Linked DNA regions of Homo sapiens. The protein of the gene in region 2 interacts with the protein of the main gene of each other region in a biochemical or structural test. Each region holds a gene or a part of one and is shown on either strand. Other genes may lie near its edges.

Region 1 (7,027 bases), on a different chromosome or scaffold from region 2:
CATCTCTACTGAAAAAAAAAAAAAAAAAGAAAAAGATAATAGACATGCCCCTTTCTGCCAGGATTTTCTTTCTTTTTCTTTTTTTTTTTTCTTTTTTTTTTTTTTTGAGATGGAGCTTCACTCTTGTTGCCCAGGCTGGAGTGCAGTGGCGTGATCTCGGCTCACTGCAACCTCTGCCTCCTGGGTTCAAGGGATTCTCCTGCCTCAGCCTCCCGAGTAACTGGGATTACAGGCATGTGCAACCACGCCTGGGTAATTTTTTATTTTTAGTAGACATGGGGTTTCACCATGTTGGTCAGGCTGGTCTCAAACTTCTGACCTCAGGTGATCCACCTGCCTCAGCCTCCGAAAGTGTTGAGATTACAGGCATGAGCCACTGTGCCTGGCCGTTTTTATTTTCTCTTCTCTTCTCTTCTCTCTTTTCGACCGAGTCTTGCTGTGTCACGCAGGCTGGAGCGCAGTAGCACGATCTTGGCTCACTACAACCTCTGCCTCCTGGGTTCAAGTGATTCTCCTTCCTCAGCCTCCCGAGTAGCTGGCATTACAGGCGCGTGCCACCACGCCCAGCTAATTTTTTGTATTTTTAGTAGAGACGGGGTTTCGCTATGATGGCCAGGCTGGTCTTGAACTCCTGGCCTCAAGTGATCGCCTGCCTCAACCTCCTAAAGTGCCGGGATTACAGGCATGAGCAACCTTGTCTGGCTACTGCCAGCATTTTCTGACTGGGCCCTCTCTCCCATTTCAGGTGAAGTCAGCACTGTGCTTAAGCTGGATAACACAGTGGTGGGGCAGACGTCTTGGAAGCCATGTGGCCCCAATGCCTGGGACCAGAGCTTCACTCTGGAGCTGGAAAGGGTGAGCTGCGTTGGAGGACAGCAGGGCCTAGAGGAGGAGGGGTTCCATGCCTCTGGCACCCTGAGTGATGGCCCTCTTCCTCTCCCTCCAGGCACGGGAACTGGAGTTGGCTGTGTTCTGGCGGGACCAGCGGGGCCTGTGTGCCCTCAAATTCCTGAAGTTGGAGGATTTCTTGGACAATGAGAGGCATGAGGTGCAGCTGGACATGGAACCCCAGGGCTGCCTGGTGGCTGAGGTATAGCCCACACCTGACCCTGAGAAAATGCTTCTTCTCCCTCACTGCCCCATTCCCAGTTTCCTAGAAGGGGAAAATATGTTTTAGGTCTGGCTCTTCCAGAAGGGGAAGATAAGTTTTAAGTCAGGCTTTTCTAGAAGAGGAAAATAGATTTTAGATCCAGCTCTTCTAGAAACGGAAGATATGTTTTAACTCTGCCTTTTCTAGAAGGAGAAGATACGTTTTAGGTCAGGCTCTTCCAGAAGGGGAAGAGACGTTTTAGGTCTGCTTTTTTCTAGAAGGGAAAGATATGTTTTAGATCAGGCTCTTCTAGAAAGGGAAGATAGGCTTTTGATCTGCCTGTTCTAGGCTGGGCGTGGTGGCTCATGCCTGTAATCCCAGCACTTCGGAAGGCTGAGGCAGGAGGATCACCTGAGGTCAGGGAGACCAGCCTGGGCAACATGGTAAAACCGCGTCTCAACTAAAAGTACAAAATTAGCTGGGCGTCGTGGCACATGCCTTTAGTCCCAGCTACTTGGGAGGCTGAGACAGGAGAATCGCTTGAACCCAGGAGGCGGAGGCTGCAGTGAGCTGAGATCCCACCACTGCACTCCAGCCTGGGCGACAGAGTGAGACTCTGTCGCCCAGGAGTCTCACAAAAAAAAAAAAGATCTGCTTGTTCTAGAAGGGGAAGATACATTTTAGATCAGGCTCTTTTAGAAGCATAAGATATGTTTTAGATATGGTTTCTCTTAATACAGAAAGATAGTTTTAGATCAGGCTCTTTCAGAAGTGGCAGGTATGTTTTAGACCCGTGTATTCTAGAAGGGGAAGATACATTTTAGATCTGTCTCTGAACCTTGATAGAAAAGTACACCTTGGCCAGGTGTGGTGGCTCACGCCTGTAATCCCAGCACTTTGGGAGGCTGAGGCAGGTGGATCACTTGAGGCCAGGAGTTCCAGACTAGCCTGGCCAACATGGTGAAACCCCATCTCTATTAAAAATACAAAAATTAGCTGGGCATGATAGTGGGTACCTGTAATCCCAGCTACTTGGGAGGCTGAGGCAGGAGAATTGCTTGAACCCAGGAGACAGAGGTTGCAGTGAGCTGAGATCACGCCATTGCACTCCAGCCTGGGCAACAGAGTGAGACTCTTGTCTCAAAAAAAAAAAAAAAAGAAGAAGAAGAAGAAGAAAAGCACTTCTAATTAGCCACATCAGTGATAGGACCTTAGCTGGGATTGGTTTTGTTCTGAGGCAAGATACTTAAAAAAAAAAAAAAAGAAGAAGAAGAAGCTGATTTCCAAATTTAGAAATGTTTAAAGAAAAAAGGAAATAAATTATAAAATTTCTTCCAACCAGGAAAGAGATACAAAACCTGGCAACATATCGTGGTGATTGCTACCAGAGCCACAGTCAAGAGAAAGTGATTCCTTCCACAGCTGTGTGAGGGTGAAGGTCTGAATTGAGGTGGCCTACCCTTGGCACTGTTGACATCTGGGGCCACATCATCCTCTGTGGTGGGGCTGTCCTGCATACTAGAGGATGTAGCACCTCTCCCCACTGCTTACAGGATGTCAGTAGCACCACCTCCCCCTGAGTTTTGACAGCCCAGAGGTCTCCAGACACTGTCAAGTGCTCCCTGGCCGGGAACCCCTGGTCTAAATGACATTTCTAGCTGAGTTCTCATAGTATAAGCCAGGCTCTGTAGCGAGTACTTTGGCGACGTGAACTCATTAATTCTCACAACCAACCAACAAAAGAGGGACTGTTATTACTCAAATTTGACAGAGGAGGAAACTGGGGCACAGAGAAGGGGCACTTGACCCCTCATTTAGCCAAATTATCCTAAAAAACTCTTTTAATCTTCCGCTAACCTATATGTGTACCCCATTTTACATATATATATGATAGATTACCTATATATGTATACACACACATATTATCTATTATTTACCCACCTACGTGTCCATCCATCCATTTTGTCTGTCTATGCATTCATCCATCCATCTTTTTTTTTTTTTTTTTTTTTTGAGATGGAGTCTCGCTGTCTCCCAGGCTGGAGTGCAGTGGTGCGATCTTGGCTCACTGCAACCTCTGCTTCCCGGGTTCATGCCATTCTCCTGCCTCAGCCTCCCGAGTAGCTGGGACTACAGGCACCCGCTACCACGCCCGGATAATTTTTTGTATTTTTAGTAGAGACGGGGTTTCACCCACCGTGTTAGCCAGGATGGTCTCCATCTCCTGACCTCGTGATCTGCCCGCCTTGGCCTCCCAAAGTGCTGGGATTACCGGCGTGAGCCACCGCGCCCGGCCCAGCCATCTTATCAATGCATCCTCTATCCATTGATAGATACACCTATATTATCTGTCTTATCTATGTATCCATCTATATTAGGTATCTATATCATCTATTTATCTAATCCATCTATCCATTTATCTATCTCTATCTATATATTATCTATCAACCAATCTATTTTTCCATGCATCCGTCTCTATTATCTGTCAGTCATCTTATCCATCAATCTTATGTATGCATCATCCATCCATCTATCCATCCCTGTATATTTCTCTGTATATATATCTACCCATTCCTCTCTCTATCTCTATCTATCCCTCTCTATATCTATCTGTGCCTCTGTTTTTCTCTATATAGCTATATCTATCTATCCATCCATCTATATTATCTATCAACTAATCTATCTTTCCGTCTACCCATCTGTCTATATTATCTATCCATCTATATTATCTATCTATCATCTTATCCATCCATCCATTTATCTTATCTATGCTCATCCCTCCATCCATCCATCTCTGTATATTCCTCTATCTCTATTTATATCCACCCATTCCTGTCTCTGTCTCTATCTATCCCTCTCTGTATCTATCTGTGTCTCTCTCTCTTTTTCTCTCGATAGCTGTATCTATCTATCCATCCATCTATCCATGCATCCTTCTCTTTCTATGAATCCCTTTCTCTATCAGTCCCTCTCTCTTTCTCTATCTGTAACTACCCTTCCGTCCATGCCCCTCTCTATCTACCTGCGTCTATATCTGTCTCTTTCTGTGTCTATTTATCCATCTCTCTATATCCATATCCCTAAGCAGAGGTTCTCCCCTGGTCTGACCATCAAGCACCAGTGAAAGAAAGGGGCGGGGCCAGGCACAGTGGCTCACACCTGTAATCCCAGCACTTTGGGAGGCTGAGGCGGGCAGATCACTAAGTCAGGAGTTCGAGACTAGCCTGGTCAACATGGTGAAACCCCGTCTCTACTGAAAATAGAAAAATTAGCCGGGTGTGGTAGCAGGCGCCTGTAATCCCAGCTACGCGGGAGGCTGAGGCAGGAGAATCAGTTGAACCTGGGAGATGAAGGTTGCAGTGAGCCGAGATCGCATCATTGCACTCCAGCCTGGGCAACAACAGCGAAACTCTGTCTCAAAAAAAAAAAAAAGAAAGAAAGAAAGGGGCGTGGAGAAGAGCTGACTCCAGATGGCAGAGGTTTAAAATTGTTCTCCCATTCAGAACACAGCCCAAACCAAATGGAAAGTGATGGTGGGTGGCCTGGGGGACACATTCTAAAGCGTTTCTCCTTGCCTTCAAGGTCTCTCTGTGGCATTCTATTTTGTTTTTATGCCTATACAGAAGCATTCTTCCATAGAACTTTTCTGCAGCTCTGGCCGGGCGCTGTGGCTCACGCCTGTAATCCCAATACTTCGGGAGGCTGAGGCGGATGGATCATTTGAGGTCAGGAGTTTGAGACCAGCCTGGCCAACATGGTGAAACCCTGTCTTTACTAAAAATACAAAAATTCGGCTGGGTGCGGTGGCTCACGCCTGTCATCCCAGCACTTTGGGAGGGTAGGCAGGCAGATCACCTGAGGTCAGGAGTTCAAGACCAGCCTGGCCAACGTGGAAAAACCTAGTCTCTACTAAAAATACAAAAATCAGCCAGGTGTGGTGGCGCACGCCTGTAATCCCAGTTACTTGGGAGGCTGAGGCAGGAGAATCACTTGAACCTGGGAGGCGGAGGTTGTAGTGAGCCAAGATCGCACCACTGTACTCCAGCCTGGGCAACAGAGTGAGACTGTGTCTCAAAAAAAAAAAAAAAGAAATTAGCCGGGCTTGGTGGTGGGTGCCTGTAATCCCAGCTGCTCGGGAGACTGAGGCAGGAGAATCTCTAGAGCCTGGGAGGTGGAGGTTGTGGTGAGCCCAGATTGCGCCACTGCACTCCAGCCTGGGCAACAGAGTCTCAAAGAAAAAAGGAACTTTCTGCAGCTCTGTTGTCGATGCACCCACAGTAGCTGAGTTCTGTTGTAGATGGAAATGTTCTCTATCTGAAGTGTGACCAGTGTGACCAGGGAACCAAAGTTTTAATTTCGCTGACATTTTCACTAATTTAAATCGCCACATGTGACAACCATACCAGACACTGCAGTTCTGTGACTTCAGCACCTTCTAGAAGTTGTATTGGAGTTGGGAGAATTCAACTTGACAGGTGGCTTCCATAGATGGGTGGGCACCAGCATTGCCTGGGGGCTTGTTGAAATACTGAGTGCTTTAGGGCCGGGCACGGTGGCTCGCGCCTGTAATCCCAGCACTTTGGGAGGCCAAAGTGGGCAGATCGCTTGAGCCCAGGAGTTCAGGACCAGCCTGGCCAACATGGTGAAACTCCGTCTCTACAAAAATACAACAATTTGCCAGGCATGGGGGTGCGTGCCTGTAGTCCCAGCTACTCAGGAGGCTGAGGTGGGAGGATCTCTTGAGCCCGGGAGGTGGAGGCTGCAGTGAGCCGAGATCGGACTACTCATATGTGCATATATATATGTGTGTATATATATATATGTGTGTGTGTATATATATATATATATAGAGAGAGAGAGAGAGCATGCGCGCGCTTCCTCCACTCCATGTTTCTGGCTCAGTAGGTCAAACCTGCGTTTCTAGAAAGTTCCCAGGTGTTGCTGCTACTGCAGGTCTGGGGTCTGGGAGCACATGTGGGGAATGGGGTGTGGGATGGCGTGGCGTCCGTTTGCAGTCGCTGTCTGTCAGTCTTGTTGGGTCAGATGCTCTCCCCACCTCTAGAAAGGGACCCGGTTGTTTGCTTCTTGCTTTTCCAAGACGTCCCTTCAGGAGGGGAGCCATGGGTTGCACCGATGACCTCTTCATTGTCACCTGGTACTCGGGTTGAATCTGATGCCACGTGACCAGAACCCCACTTGGGCGCGCACACCTGTGCTCCCAGGGGCTTCCTTACCAAGCTGTCTGCCTGCAGGTGGGCAGAGGGTCCTCACATTTTGGTCCCTTCCCCCAGGTCACCTTCCGCAACCCTGTCATTGAGAGGATTCCTCGGCTCCGACGGCAGAAGAAAATTTTCTCCAAGCAGCAAGGTGAGAGGGTGCTCCAGGCTTCCTGGGGGAGAGGCCAGGGGTCCTGGGAGTGTCATGGAGGGTGACGCCTGCCCCGTCCCCCCAGGGAAGGCGTTCCAGCGTGCTAGGCAGATGAACATCGATGTCGCCACGTGGGTGCGGCTGCTCCGGAGGCTCATCCCCAATGCCACGGGCACAGGCACCTTTAGCCCTGGGGCTTCTCCAGGATCCGAGGCCCGGACCACGGGGTAAGGAAGGAGGGCCCCATGGTCCCGGCTGCCCCTTGAAGCCTGCGAGGGTCCTGGGTCCCAGACACACCCTCCTCTCGTCTGCTGCAGTGACATATCGGTGGAGAAGCTGAACCTCGGCACTGACTCGGACAGCTCACCTCAGAAGAGCTCGCGGGATCCTCCTTCCAGCCCATCGAGCCTGGTGAGGGTCCCCCCTTCTATCCCCGTAGGCCTGGCCTGGGCAGCGTCAGGGGTCCTGCTCCAGGCTCAGAGACCACTAGGAACTTCCCTGGAGCCACGCAGCATGTCTGTGGCAGAACCAGGGCCCAGATCTCTATGCTGGTTAAAACGTGTGCCCAGA
Region 2 (7,027 bases):
TGGCTGGGCATGGTGATGCGCATCTGTAGTCCCAGTTACTCAGGAGGCTGAGTTGGGAGGATCGCTTGAGCCTGAGAGGCAGAGGTTGCAGTGAGCTAAGATTGTGCCACTGCACTCCAACCAGAGTGACAGCGAGACCCTATCTCAAAAAAAAAAAAAAAAAGATAAGTTTCAATTAGCTAATTAATTCCAAACTCTTAGTAATATGGCTCTTAGCATAATTATTATGGTGTGTTCTAGAGAAGCCCCTTTTGAAATCCTCATCTAGCTTTCCCCTGCCTTCTCAGGGGAAAATTGAAGTTATATGAAGTCCTGTCTGTCATGGAGACCAGGCACCCTACTCCTCAGTGCCTCACCATATCTCCTTTCCTACCCTACCTTTGGTTGATCCATTCATGCATCACTGGCTTCGTGGCCTTGACTGTATCTCTTGGCTTCTTCCTTTTGGGCTTTGGCTTCTGCTACTGCCTAATTATTTCTCCATCTTCCAAGTTAGGCAACCAAGAGAGGGAACCTGATTGGCCTAGATTATTTTTGCTTATTCTAGACCACTAAATAGATGTGTTCAACCAGCAATATGGTCCAGTCATCAGTGTCTGGGGGGTAGGGTGGATGGGGACATAGGGCGATGTTTGGAAGGAGTCTAAGGGTACGTATAATGTGGACGGTACCATCAGCTGGTATCACGAACAAGAGGTAGGACCATGTGTGTGATAAACAACATAATATCCATAGCTGTCATAAAGCAAAATGTTGTTATTCTTATTTCGTTCTTCCAGAAACCATTGATCATCAAGCTGCCTTCCAGTTATGGCTCTCTTATTGTATAGCCCCCCTCCTAAATCAGTCCATAACAGGTAGTGCGATAAGTGTTTAGAGAAGGAGCTTTTGCCTGTTCTCTAGGTGAGAGGTAGAGATCTCAAAGTATGTGGCAACAGAGGATAGAATTGTGGATTAGTTGGAAGGTGTTATCAGAGGTCATTTGATAGACCCTCAACTCTGAATATAGCACCCAAACCATGCCTTTCAAATAAACAACAGTCTATCCTCTTATACTTTAATCTGTTCCTGTGTAAGCAATTCTCAAGGCTAGTTCTTCATGACGTTTGAGCCACTTTTTTTTCCCTGATGGGTTTCATAGTATCCATCCTATAATGGTCAGCATGCTATTTGATTTTAGTGTGTCCTTTTTTCTTGCATGATGCTTCTTTTGCTATTTTTCTTCTTGGCTTTTCATCTTTAGGTTTGTTGAGGTCCTTAAATCCTGATTGTCAATGTCCTAGGATCCCAGAGACAAAATGGACTTATGTTTTTTTTTTTTTTTTTTTTTTTGGTCACATAACTGGAGGGACTGAGCTTGTGTTTGCTTTCTGTTAGAAGAACTGGTGCATCTAAGACAGTCAGCTGCAGAATTTGGTTTGGCTAGTTAAGACGTCCATGGAGATGGAATATCATGCAGTCCAGGTAGAAAGATATTAACGGGCCTATGAAGACAGGTTGCCTACCCAAGGCTTCTCAAACTTGAGAAATCACCTGGGCATCTTGTTAAAATGCAGATTTTAATTCAGTAGGTTTGGGGTGTGGCCTAACATCTGGAAACCTGCATTTCAAAGAAGCTCCCAGGAGATGTTGTTGCTGCAGGTCTGCAGACACACTTGGAGGAGTAAGAACTAGGGGGTTTAATATTCCCAAACAGGTGAGCAGAAGTGGCCTATATCGCTCCCCGTCGATGCCAGAGAACTTGAACAGGCCAAGACTGAAGCAGGTGGAAAAATTCAAGGACAACACAATACCAGATAAAGTTAAAAAAAAGTATTTTTCTGGCCAAGGAAAGCTCAGGAAGGTAAGAACTTTTTAAGATGAAAATCTTGTTCATCTTCTATCTCATGTCTTTGCTTTTCTGGTATGAGGATTGTTTTATTATGCCTTTTTTGTCTTCTTCCTCTTTACTTTTACTTTTTCCTCTTTGTTCTTTCCATCTTTCTGTCTTTTCTACATCTGTATCCACGTGAAATATATATATATATATAAAATATTTATATAACATAGATACATAAAGTATATCTATATTGTACTTTTAGAAATGTTGTCATAGGCCGGGTGCAGTGGCTCACGCCTATAATCCTAGCACTTTGGGAGGCCGAGGCGGGCGGATTGCCTGAGCTCAGGAGTTCAAGACCAGACTGGGCAACACGGTGAAACCCCGTCTCTACTAAAATACAAGAAATCAGCTGGGCGTGGCAGCATGTGCCTGTAGTCCCGGCTACTCAGGAGGCTGAGGCAGGAGAATCGCTTGAACCCGGGAGGTGGAGGTTGCAGTGAGCCAAGATTGTGCCACTGCACTCCAGCCTGGGCAACAGAGCAAGACTCCGTCTCAAAAAAAAAAAAAAAAAGAGAAATGTTGTCATCATACCGTCTTCCCAACCCTTTTTCTTAAGATCTGAAAGAATACAAGGGAACTTTGGTATGGATATTTTACTGCTGTTTTACATGCAGTCTGACAGAAACAACATCATATAGCAGGTTGGTTTTGTGGAAAGCAACTTCTGAAAAACTTAGCCTTTGTCCTTTACCCTCCCCAACTTTAAAAAAATTAAATAGATGGGAGGATCACTTAAGGTCAGAAGTTCAAGACCAGCCTGGTCAATATAGCATGACCCCATCTCTAATAAAAAAAAATAAAATAAAAAATTAAAATTCTAAAATCTTTGGATATTTTATAAAATCAACTTATTTATTTATTTATTTATTTTCCCCTGAGATGGGGTCTCACTCTGTCACCCAGGCTGGATTGCAGTGGCATGGTCTTGACTCACTGCAGCCTCAATATTTATTTATTATTAAAAATAATAAATAAACAAATGGAGTCTCACTCTGTCTCCCAGACTGGAGTGCAGTGGTGCAATCGTAGCTCACTATAGCCTTGGCCTCCTGGGCTCAAGTGATCTCCCTACCTCAGCCTCCCATGTAGCTAGGATTACAGATGTGCGCCACCATGGCCCACTCCATCCACTGGTTTTTAAACCTTTAACATGAGGATTGGGTGTGGGGTGGGAATCTTGTCATCTTCAGGGCTTATGTTTAAAGAAGACAGTCTCTCTGTGTGACATTACTATCACTCAGATGCTGGAGGAAGATTCTAACCAGGGGCACCTGATTGGTGATTTTTCCAAGGTGAGTTTGGCTACACCCATCCTGTATTTCAGTGAGTCATTTTGGATCTGAATCTTCTCTGTTTGCCGAGAATGCCTGGTGTAAATATGCATCCTCACCAAGTACTCTTTGGTAACCTGACAGTGCTCTAGTGGTAGATCCAGGCCCTAAGCCTTTCCAGAGAGAAAGTATTTCTTATTCTTCTGGGAAGATCCAGAACAGGGGAAAGTATGAGACTTTTTACCTTTTTTCTGTTTAAAAACATATTTTAAAATTATGTAAATAATACTTGGTTGTTACAGAAAAAGTAGAAAATGAAGAAATTTATCCCAAACTTTATTAACCAGGGTAATATTGCTTAGTATATACTCTTTTTTTCCCCCCTACTGTCTGTGTAATTGCAGAAGGTACATATTCTTACAGATTTTTTTCTGTGTTTTCACAAACACATATACAAATACAGTTTTTGCTTTTCTACAAAAACAGTTTATATTGTTTTGTTATCTGTTGTTTTTCCTCTCATTTAATAATTATATCAGGGGCATCTTTTTTCATATTAATAAGCAGTTATGCTTCATTCTTTCTTTTTTTAAGATTCAAGGTCTTGATCTGTTGCCCAGGCTGGAGTACATTGGCATGATCATAGCTCACTTCAGCCTCGAGCTCCTGGCCTCAAGAAATCCTCTCTCTCCTTGGCTTCCCAAAGCACTGAGGTTACAGGCATGAGCCACCATGCCCAGCCCATTTCATTTTAATAGCTCCATATTATTTCTTTTTTTTTTTTTTTTGGCTGCTCATAATTTCTTCATAAATCCCTTCTTGTAAGATATTTGGTTTTACAATTTTTTCTTATGAATGATACCAAGATGAATATATTTGTAGAGAAATCTAAAACTTCGTACACATCCTTGATTTGTTCTTTAGGATCAGTTCTTAGAAATGGACTTGATGTATATGCACTTTATAGAGACACTGATTTTTTTGAAGGCCTCTGGGGTTTTAAGGGTCACTTGGAAAGAAGGACAAAATAAGGGTCTTTGATCTCAAACTTGGGTGTGGAATACTTGCTGTTATTTCAGCTCTTGTGTATTTCTAGGTATGTGCGCTGCCAACCGTGTCAGGGAAACACCAAGATCTGAAGTATGTCAACCCAGAAACAGTAAGCAGATTTCTGGAGATGGTAACTGGTTACATAAGCTACCATCTGGTCTCTTCTGTCCCTAAAATGCCCATTTCCATTTGTATTTCTTTCACTGTGTTCACTCACACAGGCTCCTTATTCAACTGAAGTTATATTGAAGGACTCATTTTTTTCCCCATTCTTCTCTCTCCTTCGTTTTTAGTTAAACAAATGATACATAGTTTTTGTAAAAGGGAAAAAGGGAGGGGTCAGGCATGGTGGCTCACGCCTGAAATCCTAGCATTTTGGGAGGCTGAGGCAGGCAGATCTCAGGCACTTGAGGCAGGGAATTCGAGACCACCCTGGCCAACATGGCGAAACCCCATCTCTAATAAAAATACAAAAAAATTAACCAGGCGTGGTAATGTGTGCCTATAATCCCAGCTACTTGGGAGGCTGAAGCACAAGAATTGCTTGAACCCCAGTTGGGGAGGTTGCAGTGAGCAGAGATCGTGCCACTGTACTCCAGCCTGGGCGACACAGCGAGACTGTCTCAAAAAATAATAATTACTTAAGAAAAAAGGGAGAAAGAAAGGAAAATAAAAAATCACACACAAGAAATGGTCTCAATTAAGGTCTCAATTAGGGTGACCATGCACCCTCGTTTACATTTTACAATCCCATTTTCATCTATTAGTGAGGGTAATTATTAATAGTGTTTGCTTTCATTCTCAAAAGTCTCCCAGTTTGTACAAAAATTATTTGGTCACCATACCCACAATCTCATCACCAGAGATAACCACTAGTCATATTTTCCTATGGCCTTCCAGATTTTATTTTATTTTTAGACATGGAGTTTCGCTCTTGTTGCCCAGGCTGGAGTGCAATGGCACAATCTCGGCTTGCTGCAACCTCTGCCTCCCGGAGGTCATTCTCCTGCCTCAGCCTCCCAAGTAGCTGGGATTACAGGTGCCAGCCATCACACCGACTAATTTTTGTATTTTTAGTAGAGACGGGGTTTTACTATGTTGGTCAGGCTGGTTTCAAACTCCTGTCCTCTGGTGATCCACCCTCCTCAGCCTCCCAAAGTGCTGGGATTACAGGTGTGAGCCACTGCGCCCAGCCCCAGATTTTATTCTAGCATATGTTTTATAGAAATGGGATCATGGGCCTAGCACAGCTCACACCTGTAATCCCAGCACTTTGAGAGGCCAAGGCAGGCGAATCACCTGAGGTTGGGAGTTCGAGACGAGTCTGACCAACATGGAGAAACCCCGTCTCTACTAAAAATATAAAATTAGCTGGGTGTGGTAGCGCATGCCTGTAATCCCAGCTACTCGGGAGGCTGAGGCAGGAGAATTGCTTGAACCCGGGAGGCAGAGGTTGCGGTGAGCCAAGATGGCACCATTGTACTCCAGCCTGGGCAACAAGGGCGAAATTCCATCTCAAAAAACAAAAAAAAAGGATCATGATGAACGTATAGTATTGCAATTTGCTTAGTGAGACATTATAGACATCTTTCTATATCAATAAGGTATCTATATTATCATTTTAATGGCTATATAATGCCGCTCTATTCTACTGACATGTACAATTTATTTTACCAAACCCCTATTATTGAATATTGAAGTTATTTCTAATATATTGATAATATAAAACAATGCTGAGATGAATATAATTGTGCCTACATCTTTGTGTACTTTTCCTGTTTACTTAAGATGTTAGAAATTGCTGAGTCAAAGTGTGATTACATTTATTTGTATATGTATTTACAAAGTTCCCTTCAGAAAGGCTGAACCAATTTGCACTCCTACAAGTAGCTTCAGTTTCTTCCTTCCTTTAGGTATCAACCTTTCCCTTCCATATCCTTTCCTGAAAGACTTACTTTCTTCCTTTTTGATGGTGGGTAGGGAACCATTTTGCATTTCTTCCTGCAATTTCAAGCTCTCTAGCTGCTGCCTCTGCCACTGCAGAAGTCCTTGGGCATCTCCTGAGTCCAGCCATGCCTATCCCCAGATGGGTAGCCTGAATATGGTTTTCCTTGGTATCTTGTCAGTGCCAGCTATTTTGGTTCTCTAAAAGGGCCACTTCCTGTTTCATTCTCTTTTGTGGAGTGGGGCTGAATCATTGCCACATATCAAATATGGGGTGACTTTGGAGGCTGGACATACAGTGGACAGAACAGGAGTATGCTTGTAAGGAACTGTGTCATTGACCCTTCTCTCCCTCAGAGTGGCAGTGAGCAGAATATTCAGTCATTGTTTCTGTCCAGGTGGCTGCCTTACTGTCGGGGAAGTTCCAGGGTCTGATTGAGAAGTTTTATGTCATTGATTGTCGCTATCCATATGAGTATCTGGGAGGACACATCCAGGTGAGACGACATTGTGGCCATTAGTAGGGGAGGGCTGGAGATAACTCTTTATTGAGAAGAGTCTGTGGACAAAGGGGTCTATGAACTCTAGAGTCAGGACAAAGATTACATATTTGAAGCACCTCAAGGCTGAGGTCCTCATTGTTTTAATTCTGTATACCTTAAGCAGGTTACTTTCCCTTTCCCTCCTAGATCTATCTCCCTCTTTTCTGTAGGAGCCAAGGGGTCCTACCTAGAAATAAAAACATTAATCCAAGGACTGAAGCACTTTGCAAACACTTACTATTCATGAACATTCCTCGCAGTGATCTCTATACTTCCAGTGGTTCAGGTCTATAAACATTTATTGACCATCTACAAGCTCTATGCCAGGCGTTCAGGGT
Region 3 (7,027 bases), on a different chromosome or scaffold from region 2:
TTTTATTATCAGAGATGATTGGGGCACTTCTTTCTTTGTAAGATACCCTTAATATTTTGGGGAACCAGGTTGGCATCACAGAGGGCCCTTCCCAGCAGCTTTGTTTCTACTTCAGCTATATTCAGGTCGTCTTTTGATTTATCTTTATTAAAGGGATGACTGTTCTCTGAATGAGATAGTTCTCTCTTACCTGTTTTCCCTTCCTCTTTTTATTTACATGTTCAAGTAGAAAGGGATTACAGCCATTTATGTATTCAATTCCTAAAACTTTCTTTTCAAATCAGAAAGATTCTCAATTGCTTTTCAAAGCAGACCTTTCCTCCTGACTCCACATGCAATAATTAAGAAGCGGAAGGCTGGGTGTGGTGGCGTGCACCTGCAACCTCAGCACTTTGGAAGGCTGAGATGGGAGGATCAGTTGAGCCCAGGAGTTTGAGACCATCCTGGGCAACACAGCAATACTGCAGCTCTACAAAAAAATTTAAAAATTAGGGCATGATAGCACATGCCTGTAGTCCCAGCTACTTGGGAAGCTGAGGCAGGAGGGTTGCTTGAGTCAGGAGTTAGAGGCCATAGTGAGCTGTGATTGTGCCAGTGACCTCCAGCCTAGGCAACAGAGCAGAGACTGTGTCTCTAAAAAAATTTTTTTAATAAATAAAGAAGGTGAACTTGCCCAAGCAACCAGATTTTTTTTTTTTTAAGACAGGATCTTAACTCTGTCACCCCAGCTGGAGTGCAGTGGCACGATCTTAGCTCACTGGAACCTCCACCTCCTGGGCTCAAGCTTCCTGGGCTCCATCTCCCTGCTCAAGCGATCCTGTTACCTCAGTCTCCCAAGTAGCTGGGACCACAGGCATGCGTCACCACACCTGGCTAATTTTTTGTATTTTTGGAGACAAGTTTTCACCATGTTACCCAGGCTGGTCTCAAAGTCCTGGGCTCAAGCGATCTGCCCACCTTGGCCTCCCAAAGTGCTGGGATTACAGGCGTGAGTCACCGTGCCTGGGCAACCAGAACTTTTTATAAACTTGTGTGTGTATGTGTAAACATAAATATACATACATACTTTTACTGTTGGACTGTATTAAAACAGGAGTTTTAAAGAGGTGGTTAAGATAGACAGCAGACTTTGCTTCTGAAGGTGATAGTGGGATAGCAGATAATGTTTCTTGAACTGTCACTTGGAACCAAGTACTGTGTTAAGAAAGTACTAGGTTTGTTATCTCTAATCTTCACTCCAACCCTGTGAGGTAGGACTGTTATATTAAGTTTATATTAACTTTTTTGTTACCACCGTTACTTTGTTAGCAAGGTTTAATATTGATATCCTTTGATGTACTAAGAGCACCTACTGAAGTCAGCACTGTCAAAAGACTGCTGGTCCAAGACTTGCTTTGGGAATACCAACCCCTCTACCAATTTAGCTGTTTGAGAAGGCTGTCTCAGGGCTACTTCTTACATATCTTGGCCTCAGTTTTTAAACTTCTCATCCTGTGATCAGAAAGCTAATGAAAGAGAATTTGATTGATGAGCATTCTCGTTCACTTGAAATGCAACTGTGAGAGATAGCAGGAATAAAGAAGGTGATGATCATAACTAGGGAAGTTAGGATGGCAGTAAGGGAGAAGTTCTATCAAAGACAGTTAGAAACACTGAAGTTAGTGGACTTTGTCAGTTAACACTCGTTCCTTAGCAGGACCAAGATTCTTTCTTTGAGAGCAGTAACATTATTGAACAAAGTCATTCTGAAAACCCTTGTTTTTTCAGGCAAGAAACTATATTCAGTCTTTGACTCAGATGCCGAAGATGAACTTTGCGAATGTATTTATTGGTGCCAATCCCCTGGGTAAGTTGACCATATATCCTCACCTCATGGATATTGAATTGGTTATGATATAAATTGGGGATTTGAAGAAGAGTTTCTCCTTTTGACCAAATAAAGTACCATTAGTTGAATCTTGGAAGGTGATAAATACGGCTTTTATTATCTATTTGTGTTGTCAGATTTTTTTTTAATCACATGAGATGATTGTATGTTTAAATGATCACAGAACTTGGGATTGGGGGAATGGGCAGGTACAGTGGAGAAAGGAGAGAAAGTAATGGGAATGTTGAGAGAAAAGATTGGTGAGGCAGGAAGAAGCAGATACAGAAGAAAGCTGTAACTTGCTCACAACTGCTGTGGATTTATGGTGTCTCTGAGTGGAGGACAGAAACCACTGAAGTGCAGGTGGGTGTTTAGAGGAGCCACCCAGGAGCTCCCTGCAGGGTGCTCTGCTCTAACGGTAGCTGCCGTTGCTACAGATCCTGTCGTCTTCCACACTCATGAACTTTTCCCCTCTCCTCTTCTTTCTCTGCCCTCAGAGGCATAACCGTCCTCTCCTGTTTGTGGAGCTTATTTGCTACCTAAACTTAAAGGAATGGCTTCCTATGCCTTCAAGATCCTTGGCAGAGGGAAGTGATGGTGGCAGCTGAAGATATGTGTTGCCTTGGCTAAAAAAGGAGTTGCTTTATTATTATTATTTATTTATTTATTTATTTATTTATTTTGGTAGTGTCAGGGTCTCGCTCTTTTACCCAGGCTAGAGTACAGTGGCACAATCATAGCTCACTGCAAGCTTGAACTCCTGGGCTCCAGTGATCCTCCTGCCTCAGCCTTCCAAATAGCTAGGACTACAGGCATGCATCCCCAAGCCTGGCTAATTTTTTAAAGAATTCTTTGTAGAGACAGGGTCTCACCATCTTACTAATCGTGGACTCCTGGACTCATGCAGTCTGCCCACTTCAACTTCCAAAAGTGCTGGGATTCAGACGTGAGACACTGTGCCTGGCGGACTATATTCTTTGAAGGGGAGGAGTGATGTGTGCTTCAGATGGCCCCTGAAAGCTGCTTTGCCTGAGGCTCATTCCCTGACTCTTGAAGAGGACAGTGGACAGTGCTGTTTAATGGTGGACACAGAAGGATCAGACCAGGACCTCCCTACAATAGGGAAGGGAGCTATGCTATGGTAACGAGTATAATCTGCCTTCTCACTTTTCTTAAGATTGTATTGTGTGGTGTGTTTTAAAATCTCACTGCATTTCTTTGCATCTGTTTGGGTCATCTGTCTTCTTAAGGGTCTTGGCAGCTATGCTTCAGGTTTAGTTTTATCTTTTTGAGGGCTGACAGCCATGCTGACCTCTTTAGAAGCTGGGGTGAAGGCTAGGTGATTTTACCTTTTTAAGTACTTCATCCATAGTGATTATGGAGAGGAATTTTAGTGTCGCTGTGATAATTCTTATAATAGCAGAGATACTCACGCTCTTTGAAGTTTTGGGCAGTTGTGGATGAGTTCGTGTCAGCCTTGGAGACAGAGAGTATGTCATATCTCAGCTGGGTCGCTCTCCTGCCCTAGGATGAATCCACAGTCTCATCAGGGGTGGGTACGATTCTACTGAGACTGGCTTAGGTTTGCATCTGCCCTGGCATGCTCTCATTGGCTTTGTGTGATTTATTTGAGCTGTATTATCTAGTTCAAGGGTCTGTGAGAAGCTCTCTTTGAGCCTTAAGTACTACAGGATGTTGGGAAAAGATGTTGTGTTCTTTCTTTCCTTTTTTTTTTGAGACAGAGTCTCGCTCTGTCGTCCAGGTTGGAGTGCAGTGGTGCGATCTCGGCTCATTGCAAGCTCCACCTCCCGGCTTTAAGTGATTCTTCTGCCTCAGCCTCCTGAGTAGCTGGGAATACAAGTGTGTGCCACCACACCTGGCTAATTTTTTGTATCTTTAGTAAAGACGGGGTTTCACCGTGTTAGCCAGGATGGTCTCGATCTCCTGACCTCGTGACCTGCCCGCCTCGGCCTCCCAAAGTGCTGGGATTACAGGCATGAGCCACTGCACCCAGCCCGTCGTGTTCTTTCTTGTCGTCATTCTGTTCTGAAGTTGTTTCATTTTATAAGCCTTAAGTTTTGAACAGGGCAGTACTCACTGACACCCTCTTAACAGACTCAGAAAGATGTGTTAATTCATTTTTTAGGGGGAGAGGGGAGATATTTGTGTTCCAGCAGCTTATTTAGGTCACATACCTCCTGATAGGTCTTCCCATTCTTTGAAATCATGACATTGAAACCTCCAAAAGAACTAGATACCACTTTGCTAATGAGTTGAAAGGAGGCTTTGGTCCATCTGGTGCTCAGCACTGTACTTCTCAGCATTTAAACGTGCCTTACAGCCCATTGCCAAACAGTGATGTCATATAATGAGGCTCCCCTTGCTGGGCAGATGGAGCACAGTGTTACTATCACAAGCTCGTGCCCAGCATATTAACTGAGCAGGAACATGCCAGAAATATAAATATTAACAGCTCTGTTTTGTCAGCCACTGACTTTGTTTCACTGCTATTCCCAAAACATGAATTAAAACTTAAATTACCCCTTGATGTTAGTGTATGTATTTATCTGTCAAGATTTTTTTTTTTTAAGAGATGGCATCTCACTCTGTCACCCAGGTTAGAGTACAGTGGCACAGTCACGGTTCATGATAACCTCGAACTCTTGTGTTTAAGTGATCCTTCCTCTTCCCTATCCCAAGTAGCTGAGACAACAGGCACATAATGCCATGCCCAGCTAATAAGATCTTTGAGGAATTTGTTCTTGCCCCTGACCTTATTGGTTATAAGAACATGGTCCTTTTTACCCTAAGGGTAACAGAGACTTGTCGTATAATCTGTGTTCAATTATAAAATCAACAGCTGATAAGGTTTCTTTTTCTAAGAAGAGAAGACCATCAGAAGAATATATATATATATAATCCAGGCATTCACCTAGTACTGTAAAGTGTAAACTTATGAACTTGAATTGACACATGAATATTTACTTTGTTTCTGTATCCCCTTGAAGCCCATATTTCTCCAGTGGATTACTCTGGAATTCAAGCTGTAGGACGGGTGTTTTACAGCCTCCAATATACACAGCAGTAGATCTCTATAGGAAGCTGTCCTCTTCACTACTCACCCCCACACCCTCCACATTTAAGGAGTAATTTGCAAAGTCTCAAAAGCCTTTTTCACCACAGTGATAACTGGTTATATGGCAGTATTTATTCTCCCAAGTGCCACCATGCTGAAACACAAAAATACTCATTTGAAATATAGAGTTAGACAAATTACCATTTTGTAACCCCTTATGAAATAATTGCTTTTGGGAAGGAAACCCAGTGAATGCAGAAAGCCATAAGTGAAAAGAATGGATATTTACTTGGTACCAAAATATCCCGCAGATTACTTGCTTTGGTCAAAGGGGAAACATCTTAACCCAGTGATCAATTTTAGCTCATTAGTAGTGGGACAGATGGCCTTAATGCACTGTCACGTGCACAGCATCACCTGTATTTTTGCTGAAAATGTTTAACCTGATTCTTACCAAAATTTTTGACCTAACTTCCGGTTTTTGGGAAGTACAGGGGATAGTGGAAAGCAGGGTATAGACACATGACAGCAAAAGAAGCAAAATCAGACACATCCCGAGAAACGGTCATTCTCAGGACAATCAGAGGGTCTCTTTAGATCAAAATCAGGAAAGAACAGGGCTTAGAAGTAAGAAGATTATTCTAGACTAAGAGAGACTAAAGAAAACCAGTCAGTTGCAGTGCATGGCCCCTAATTGAATCCTGGTTTCAACAAACTAGTTCTAAAAGACAACGTTGGAATAATTGGAGAAATCTTAACATGAACTGGATTTTAGATGATATTTAGAAATTATTTGTCAGAGATAATAACAGTATTATGATTATATAGGAAGATGTCTTCGTGTTGAAATATTTGGGGAGGGTAAAGTGTCATGTCTATAATTTTATTTTAAAACAGTTCAGAAAAAAATACATATAAATACAGAAATATAAAAATGTTAATTGTTGAATATGCTAGGCATATGAGTGTTCACTTTATCATAGTTTTTACTTTTCTGTTTCTGTATATTTGAAATTTTTCATAGTGAAATTTTTAAAAATAAAATTCCCTTTGATTTTAATACCATGTCTCACCCTCATCACCATGTAAAACCCCCAGTTTATTCACTGTTTGAAGATCTGTTGATGAATATTTGATGTTAGTAAATAAACAGCTTAGGGGGACAAAAAAAAAACAGCCCTGCCTACCTATTGTAGGTTACTTCAGCTGTAGGCTTTGTTTTATACAGTTTGACTACACTGGTAGCAGTTTGACATTGACGGTCCACAAAAGCCTGTTCAAACAGAATCCCAGTCATTTAAAAAAATTCTTCTTTAGTAACATATTCTTTAAAAATACAAAATACAGGAGGAGGGTGAGGGTTGAGAGATAACCTATCGGGTACAATGTTCACTATTTGGTTAATGGGCACGCTAGAAGCCCAGTCCCCATCAGTCCGTGGTGAGACCCATGTAACAAATGTGCACATGTACCCCCAAATCAAAAATAAAATAAAAAAATTTTAAAACATAGAAAATACAGATACACACACACACACACACACACATACACACATAAAGGAGAAGAGGGCTAATATATCCTAGAGTAGGTATTTTGGAGGAGAGTTCTTTGTTTGGATATGAAGGGTCAAAACTATGTTTGCTCAATAAGGCATACTTTTTTGTAACATGTTAAAAACTCTTTTCCTTCCTGTCTATGGTACTGATAGCTGTCGACTTGCTGGAGAAGATGCTTGTATTGGACTCAGATAAGAGAATTACAGCGGCCCAAGCCCTTGCACATGCCTACTTTGCTCAGTACCACGATCCTGATGATGAACCAGTGGCCGATCCTTATGATCAGTCCTTTGAAAGCAGGGACCTCCTTATAGATGAGTGGAAAAGTAAGTCCTAAGGGTAGGATTAACATCTTGAACCACTAACCAAAAGCGGTGGGAAAAATAAAAACTGAATGGTCATAACCAACTTGCTAAAGCTTGTAGATGAGGTCTCTAATGCAGAATGAATATGTTCTCTGGTGGAAACTGTTGTAGACAGTGATACTCTCTGGACCTTTGAGATACTTATGTCTGGTCTGATTTTATG
Region 4 (7,027 bases), on a different chromosome or scaffold from region 2:
AACAAGAAATCGCTTTCTCAGATCTTTTGCTATTTGCATGGGATAGAGCTAACAGTGTGATAGGTTTCTGGGACCTCAACTTTACCTAAAGATAAAAATTGTCTTTGTCTTAAATCTTTCTCAACACAGCTTGTCCATTCCCATTGATGGATTGGAATTCTTTTTAGATGACTGAGGTAGGCTGCAGCAGTTTGGGAAACTTTAATTACGTGCCATAATTGGTAAAATCTGTTTGGCAAATGGGAGTAGTGTACAAATTGGTGCTACATTTGTATAAAAATTAGGGAATTTGTTAATAGGTATTTCCAAGCTCTCCAGAAATTCCGATTCGGTACTTCTGGAGTACAGCTCAGGGAATTTTTTTTTTTTTTTTTTTTTGGAGACAGTCTTGCTCTGTTGCCCAGGCTGGAGTGCAATGGCATGATCTCGGCTCACTGCAGCCTCCGCCTCCCAAGTAGCTGGGATTACAGGCACCCACCACCATGCCCAGCTAATTTTTGTACTTGAAGTAGAGACGGGGTTTCACCATGTTGGCCAGGCTGGTCTTGAACTCCTGACCTCAGGTGATCTGCCTGCCTTGGCTTCCCAAAGTGCTGGGATTACAGGAGTGAGCCACCTCGCCTGGCTGTTGTTGTTTTTAAATTAAGTTCTTTAGTGATCTGTCTTACATGGGTAAGGCACAAAGAGGAGTGAGTTAAATATCTGTGCAGTCATCATTTTGTCCTTGGTATTTGAGTGGAAACTAGTGGGGAATTCCTACATATGTACTTGTGCAGGACATGGTTATGCACATCATACTTGCTATTTCCTGGTTCTAGATATCAGCATTAGGTAAAGTAGTGCCCTGTAAGGCAGTAACTTCTGTATCTGGTTGTGTACCTCCTTCTGTCACCAATCTTGCATACCCATGATAAGGAGCCGGGTTATTAAATCCAACTTGGTTTCAAATCGTTTTGGAGCATGTAGAGCTGTTTCTATTCATGTTGGTTCTGCTTGTGTAATAACAACATTTTAATTCCTTCTCCCTCAGCTAAGTGACATAAATGGAAGTATATTCTATCACTGGAAATCTCGATACTGATAGTGCCCATTCAGTTTCTCATCTTCCTTAATTTACACACTAGTAAATGGGATAAGATGTAATTGGAATTGTAATTGGCTTATTTTTTGGCACATCACTCTTAACACCAACCCTTTAAAAAAAAATTAGACAATAATGGCTGGGCGCAGTGGCTCATGCCTGTCATCCCAGCACTTTGAGAGGCCGAGGTGGGTGGATCACCTGAGGTCAGGAGTTCGAGACCAGCCTGGCCAACATGGCGAAACCCTGTCTCTACTAAAAATACAAAAATTAGCTGGCTGTGGCGGTGGATACCTGTAGTCTCAGCTACTCTGGAGGCTTAGGCAGGAGAATTGCTTGAACCTGGGAGGCGGAGATTGTGGTGAGCCAAGATTGCGCATTGCACTCCAGCCTGGGTGACAGAGTGACACTCCATTTCTTAAAAAAAAAAAAAAAAAAAAAATTAGATAATTTGTATAGGCATGGTTAAGCCCTCGGGCATGAGAAAAAAGCTAACAGTACCTTGGCCTTTTTCCCTTTCATAGCACAACGATAACTAATACTAAGTTTCACTGTTGGTGATCTTTTTTGAAATCTGGATATTGGGGCACAATTGGGAGCTAGTTTCTCTTTTCTGATAATTGAATATTACTATTAAGGTTACCTCTAGTTTAAACAGAAAACTTTTAGTACTCAGGAGGTGGACATCCGTAGTTTCTAAATCACCTCAAGTAATATGGAGTCTTCAGAAAGCAATCTAAAGGAAAAAGGTAAAGGTAGAATGGGATTCAGTGCACTCCACATATGTACTAGGAGACTATGTAGTGTGGTGTGAAGGCACCCTGGACTTGGGTTAATAATACCCATTCAGCCCCTGATATTTTGGACAATTCACCTTGTTTTTCCCCCTCATTCCCTCGTGTCTTTGACATACCGTTTTTGTCCATTCTAGCTCTGCTAGTCCTCGAGAGCAAAGCCTTTCATTTAACATCAATCAGAACTGTTTGTAGTTGGGTAGAGCTGATGGGGGTGGGGGCCAGGGATGATGATATACCGTATAAGAAGGAAAGGGGGAGTTCATTATTGGTGCTAGCTGCAAAGCAGGATACTAAGTGATCCGACCCAGTCAGCAGAGCTGGCCTGAATATCTGGCAGCTATTCTTTGTCCCGTGTTCATGCCAGAACAGTTAACTGTTTGCCTTTGAGTGGACTACTGATTCTTAGTGAGTTCATTGACTGAATTAGCTGATCACGGTAATAATTAGCTCTAGGTCAATTGTGGCTTCATCTTTTATCATACCTGTGCCTTTACTCTTTACATAAATGGTGGCGTGGTTACCATGTCAAGCGAGACATGTTTAATGACAAGTGGATCTTGTTTTGACATCTGGCTAGATTTTGGTATCTGTCAGTGATAGAACAGTTCTTTGATTCTTGGGCAAACAGAACAAATCCTTTCAGATTGGAAGTTATATAAAGATTAGTTCATAGGTGTTATTAACATCAGCAACGTTGTTTTTGTATTTAGTGATGTTGTTACTTGACCAAGGCCTTTCTATGTAAGTCACCCCGAATGCTGAGTTGTTAGTGATTAGAAGGAAAAAGTTTTGTTTCAGCCCACGTCTCATGAGTAAGATCTCCTTGGATCAGATTAGACAGTGATCTACTGTGAATAAGACCCACCTGAATGCCCCAGAACTAGCTTCATTCTAGTGTCCATGTCTGTCTACAAAACGAGGGTGTGAACATCCTTTCCTTATAACAGCAACAATGAGCCTGGAAGATGAGTTTTGTCCCCATCTCTCTCCTTTGCCATTTACTGCTACCTCCTCTTGTAACTTCTGGTTTCCCACCTCGTGTTGAAGGTTGAAGTGAGGTGGGATGACTGGTTTTGTTTCTAGGTTCTAGGGCAGTGTTGATTATGCTGATGTTGCTACTGAGGCTGGTTTTTTCTGACAGCCTTTCCTACTTCTCCGTATTATAGATAAGAATTCTGAGGCCAGGCACAGTGGCTCACGCCTGTCATCCCAGTACTTTGGTAGGCCGAGGTGGGTGGATCACCTGAGGTCAGGAGTTTGAGACTGTCCTGGCCAACATGGTGAAACCCCATCTCTACTAAAAATACAAAAACTAGCCGGGCATGGTGGCAGGCACCTGTAATCCCAGCTACTTGCTGGGGGGAGCTAAGGCAGGAGAATCGCTTGAACCCAGAAGGCGGAGGTTGCAGTGAGCCGAGATCGCGCCATCATGCTCCAGCCTGGGGGACACGAGCGAGACTTTGTCTCAAAAAAAAAAAGAATTCTGAGACAGCTGCCTGGGCACAGTGGCTCACACCTGTAATCCTAGCACTTTGGGAGGCCAGGAATTTGAGACCAGCCTGGGCAACATAGGGAGACCCCCATCTCTACTAAAAACCCAAAAAAGTTAGCTGGGTGTGATGGCATGTGCCTGTAGTCTAAGCTACTCAGGGAGGCCTGGGAGGTCAAGGCTGCAGTATCGTTGTGCCATTGCACTATCGTTTTGCTACTACACTCCACCCTGGACAACTGACTGAGGCCTTGTATTTTCCTTTTTTTTTTTTTGAGCCTGGGCAATATGGTGATGCCCTGTCTCAACAAAAGATAGCTGGGCATGTCAGCATATCCACCCCTGTAGTTCAGTTACTCAGGAGCCTGAGGCGGGAGGATAGATTGCACCGTAGAGATTGAGGCTACAGTGAGCTGTGATCGTGCCACTGCACTCCAGTCCGGGCAACATAGTGAGACCCTGTCTTAAGAAAGAAAGAAAAAAAAGAATTCAGAGACACTAATATAAGTATGGTGGTGGGCAAAATGTGGTCAAATAGTGTTAGAAATTTGTATCTTTTGTCTTTTTTTTTGGTGCAGGTTTTGCAGACATTGGGTACAGAAACTTACCGGCCTAGTTCTGCCTCACAGTGTGTGGCTGGTATTGCTTGTGCAGAGATCCCAGTAAACCAGTGGCCAGAACTCATTCCTCAGCTGGTGGCCAATGTCACAAACCCCAACAGCACAGAGCACATGAAGGAGTCGACATTGGAAGCCATCGGTTATATTTGCCAAGATATAGTAAGTGCTTGCCTAATGTATCTGGTTTATATACCTCTGATTGCCTCTAGCTGTGACATCAATGATATTAGTACTACCTTATTGAATCACGAAGAAAGCCAAGCTAAATTGCACAGTTTTGAAAGTGAGACTGATTTATTTCCCTTAGGCCTGTGTCTTCACATTGCTAATCATGCCCTAAAGTAAAGAAACTTGAGGATCGCAAACTGAAAACAGAAGTCTATGTTTGAAGAGTCTTAGATTCTAGACTTACAAAATGAGGATATTCTCATTTGGATTATCCCTGACCCAGTCTTTTTTCTTAAGATCCCGAATGTACCATGAATGTTGTGGCGCATTTTCATTTACAACATTACGGAAAGTTTTGCCAACATTTGATGTAGTTGGTTTAGCCACTGGAGACACAGTATTTTAGATGTAGCCCCCCCAGCACTGTTGTTCCTGATGAGGTTACCACTCTTGGTGTGTATTTTAATATATAGACTTTATGAAGCAAAGGAGCCCACAGCACTTGACCCAGACTTAGACTCCCTAGATGTGCCTAGGTGTCGATCCTTGGCCTTGGCCCTTAAATGCCCTGAAGCTTTACTTTAGAGTACAGATGGCCTGGAAAATACGAACAGACTGCCATCTCCATTTGCACAGAAGTGGGGAGGAAAGCGAATATTACCTCATACCCAGAGTCATTATGCTAAGAAGTCAAAGATGAAGTTGATGAGTTTGACTTGGTTTTGTTCAGTTCTGGATTGCCAGTACCATGAGACATTTTGCAGGTGGTTTGCAGTGTTATTCCCAAATGGAAACGGGTGGGGAAAGATCACCAATTCATGATACTTTCTTGAGTGAACTTTACAGTTAAAAGGACTGCCAATTAAGCCAGGCACAGTGGCTTACACCTGTAGTCCCAGCTGCTTGGGAAGCTGAGGTGGGAGGATCACTTGAACCCAGGAATTTGAGGGTTCAGTGCATTGTGGTAGTGCCTGTGAATAGCCACTGCACTTTAGTCTGGGCAATACAGACCCTGTCTCTTAAGAACAGAAGAAGGACTGCTTCTGTCGTGAAGCTCCTTATGGCAGTCTTTTGGAGGGGATTGATTCCAGCACCCTCCTCAGGTACCAAAATCCTCAGATGTTCAAGTCTGTTACATAAAATGGTGTAGTATTTGCATATAACCTATGCACATCCTCCCATATACTTTAAATCATCTCTAGAATACTTACAATACCTAATTCAATGTAAATGCTATATTAATAGTTGGTATACTGTATTAAGGGAATGATGACAAGAAAAAAAGGTGTACATGCACCTTTTGGTGCAGTACAGATGCAACCATCCATTTTTTTTCCTCTAAATATTTTCAATCCATAGTTGTTTGAATCCACAGATGTGGAACCCATGGCTGCAGAGGGCTGACTGTATATTCATTGCACTTCTCTGCTTGTTACAGGACCCAGAGCAGCTACAAGATAAATCCAATGAGATTCTGACTGCCATAATCCAGGGGATGAGGAAAGAAGAGCCTAGTAATAATGTGAAGCTAGCTGCTACGAATGCACTCCTGAACTCATTGGAGTTCACCAAAGCAAACTTTGATAAAGAGGTAAGTTTTTTGACAATAAGGTATAGATTCAGACAGTAAGGGATGAAAGAGTTGAATGAAAGTTTTTTGTTTTGTTTTCTTAAGTTTATGGTTTAGAAAGTACCACCTACTTAAAAGTATTTGTTTCCAGTTTAGTCGAGTTCGTATTGTGTGAGATATCCCCATGGAGTGTTTGCCGTTTCTCATCATGCTTTTGGAAATAAAGTGTTTCTAAGCTTAGGTTTTTCCTTTTGCAGTCCAAAGTGTGGAATGTTGTTGGGTTTTTTTAAATTATAGGGCATGGTGGTGCATACTGGTACTCCAGCTACTTCAGAGGCTAAGGCGGGAGGATTGCTTGAGTCCAGTTATTCAAGGCCAGCCTGGGCAACAAAGTCAGATATCGTCCCTTAAAAAAAAGAAAGGAATAGGCTGGGCGATGTGGCTTAAGCCTGTAATCCCAGCACTTTGGGAGGCTGAGGCGGGTGGATCATCAGGTCAGGAGTTTGAGACCAGCCTGACGAACATGGTGAAACCCCATCTCTACTAAAAATACAAAAAAATTAGCCGGGTGTGGTGGCGTGCGCCTGTAATCCCAGCTACTCAGGAGGCTGAGGCAGGAGAATCACTTGAACCTGGGAGGCAGAGGTTGCAGTGAGCCGAGATTGCAGCACTGTATTCCAGCCTGGGCGACAGAGCAAGACTGTCTCAAAAAAAATAAAAAATAAAAAAAATAAAAGAAAGAAATTATGGTATGTACTATATATGTTGGTTTACTTTGGTTTCTTTTAAGATTGTGTGAATCTTTTGCCTTGTACTAAAGATTTTGTGGAGGCCGGGTGCTGGGGCTCACATCCAGTAATCCCAACACTTTGGGCCACCAAGGCAAGAGGATCACTTGAAGCCAGGAGTTTGAGACTAGCCTGTGCAACGTAACAAAACCCTGTCTCTAAAAAAATTTCTGTGGAGAAGAACAACTGAGTTGTTAACCAGTTTTGTGAGCTCTTGTGTTTACAGGGCTTATAATGGAAAAAAAATAATGAAAAATGAAATAAATAAAAATTATAGCAATTGGTCTGTTTCATACCACCTTAGGAAGGTGTTTTTAAGAAACAGGATATATAGCCAGGTGCTTTGGCACATGCCTGTAATCCCAGCTACTTGGGAAGCTGAGGTGGGAGGATCACTTGAGCCTGGGAGTTCAAGGCTCAAGATTTCACCACTGTACTTCAGCCTGGGCAACAGTGCAAGACTCTGTCTCCAAAAAAAAAAAATATATATATATGTATATGTATGTGTATGTAT

The links.
Region 1: the proteins of CDC25C (region 2) and PKN1 form a complex in vitro, tested with the Homo sapiens proteins (one study listed by BioGRID).
Region 3: the proteins of CDC25C (region 2) and MAPK14 form a complex in vitro, tested with the Homo sapiens proteins (one study listed by BioGRID).
Region 4: the proteins of CDC25C (region 2) and KPNB1 form a complex in vitro, tested with the Homo sapiens proteins (one study listed by BioGRID).

What each region holds. Positions count from the first base shown.
Region 1 is NC_000019.10:14,457,286-14,464,312, forward strand, and holds part of PKN1 (serine/threonine-protein kinase N1), read left to right. Parts: intron 1-745; coding exon 746-855; intron 856-946; coding exon 947-1,090; intron 1,091-6,381; coding exon 6,382-6,457; intron 6,458-6,542; coding exon 6,543-6,684; intron 6,685-6,774; coding exon 6,775-6,868; intron 6,869-7,027. UniProt on the Homo sapiens protein: PKC-related serine/threonine-protein kinase involved in various processes such as regulation of the intermediate filaments of the actin cytoskeleton, cell migration, tumor cell invasion and transcription regulation.
Region 2 is NC_000005.10:138,286,786-138,293,812, reverse strand, and holds part of CDC25C (M-phase inducer phosphatase 3), read left to right. Parts: intron 1-1,696; coding exon 1,697-1,843; intron 1,844-3,072; coding exon 3,073-3,174; intron 3,175-4,249; coding exon 4,250-4,312; intron 4,313-6,545; coding exon 6,546-6,644; intron 6,645-7,027. UniProt on the Homo sapiens protein: Functions as a dosage-dependent inducer in mitotic control. Tyrosine protein phosphatase required for progression of the cell cycle. When phosphorylated, highly effective in activating G2 cells into prophase.
Region 3 is NC_000006.12:36,100,804-36,107,830, forward strand, and holds part of MAPK14 (mitogen-activated protein kinase 14), read left to right. Parts: intron 1-1,767; coding exon 1,768-1,846; coding exon of another isoform or gene 1,847-1,899; exon of another isoform or gene 1,900-1,961; intron 1,962-6,651; coding exon 6,652-6,825; intron 6,826-7,027. UniProt on the Homo sapiens protein: Serine/threonine kinase which acts as an essential component of the MAP kinase signal transduction pathway.
Region 4 is NC_000017.11:47,652,915-47,659,941, forward strand, and holds part of KPNB1 (importin subunit beta-1), read left to right. Parts: intron 1-3,945; coding exon 3,946-4,146; intron 4,147-5,593; coding exon 5,594-5,746; intron 5,747-7,027.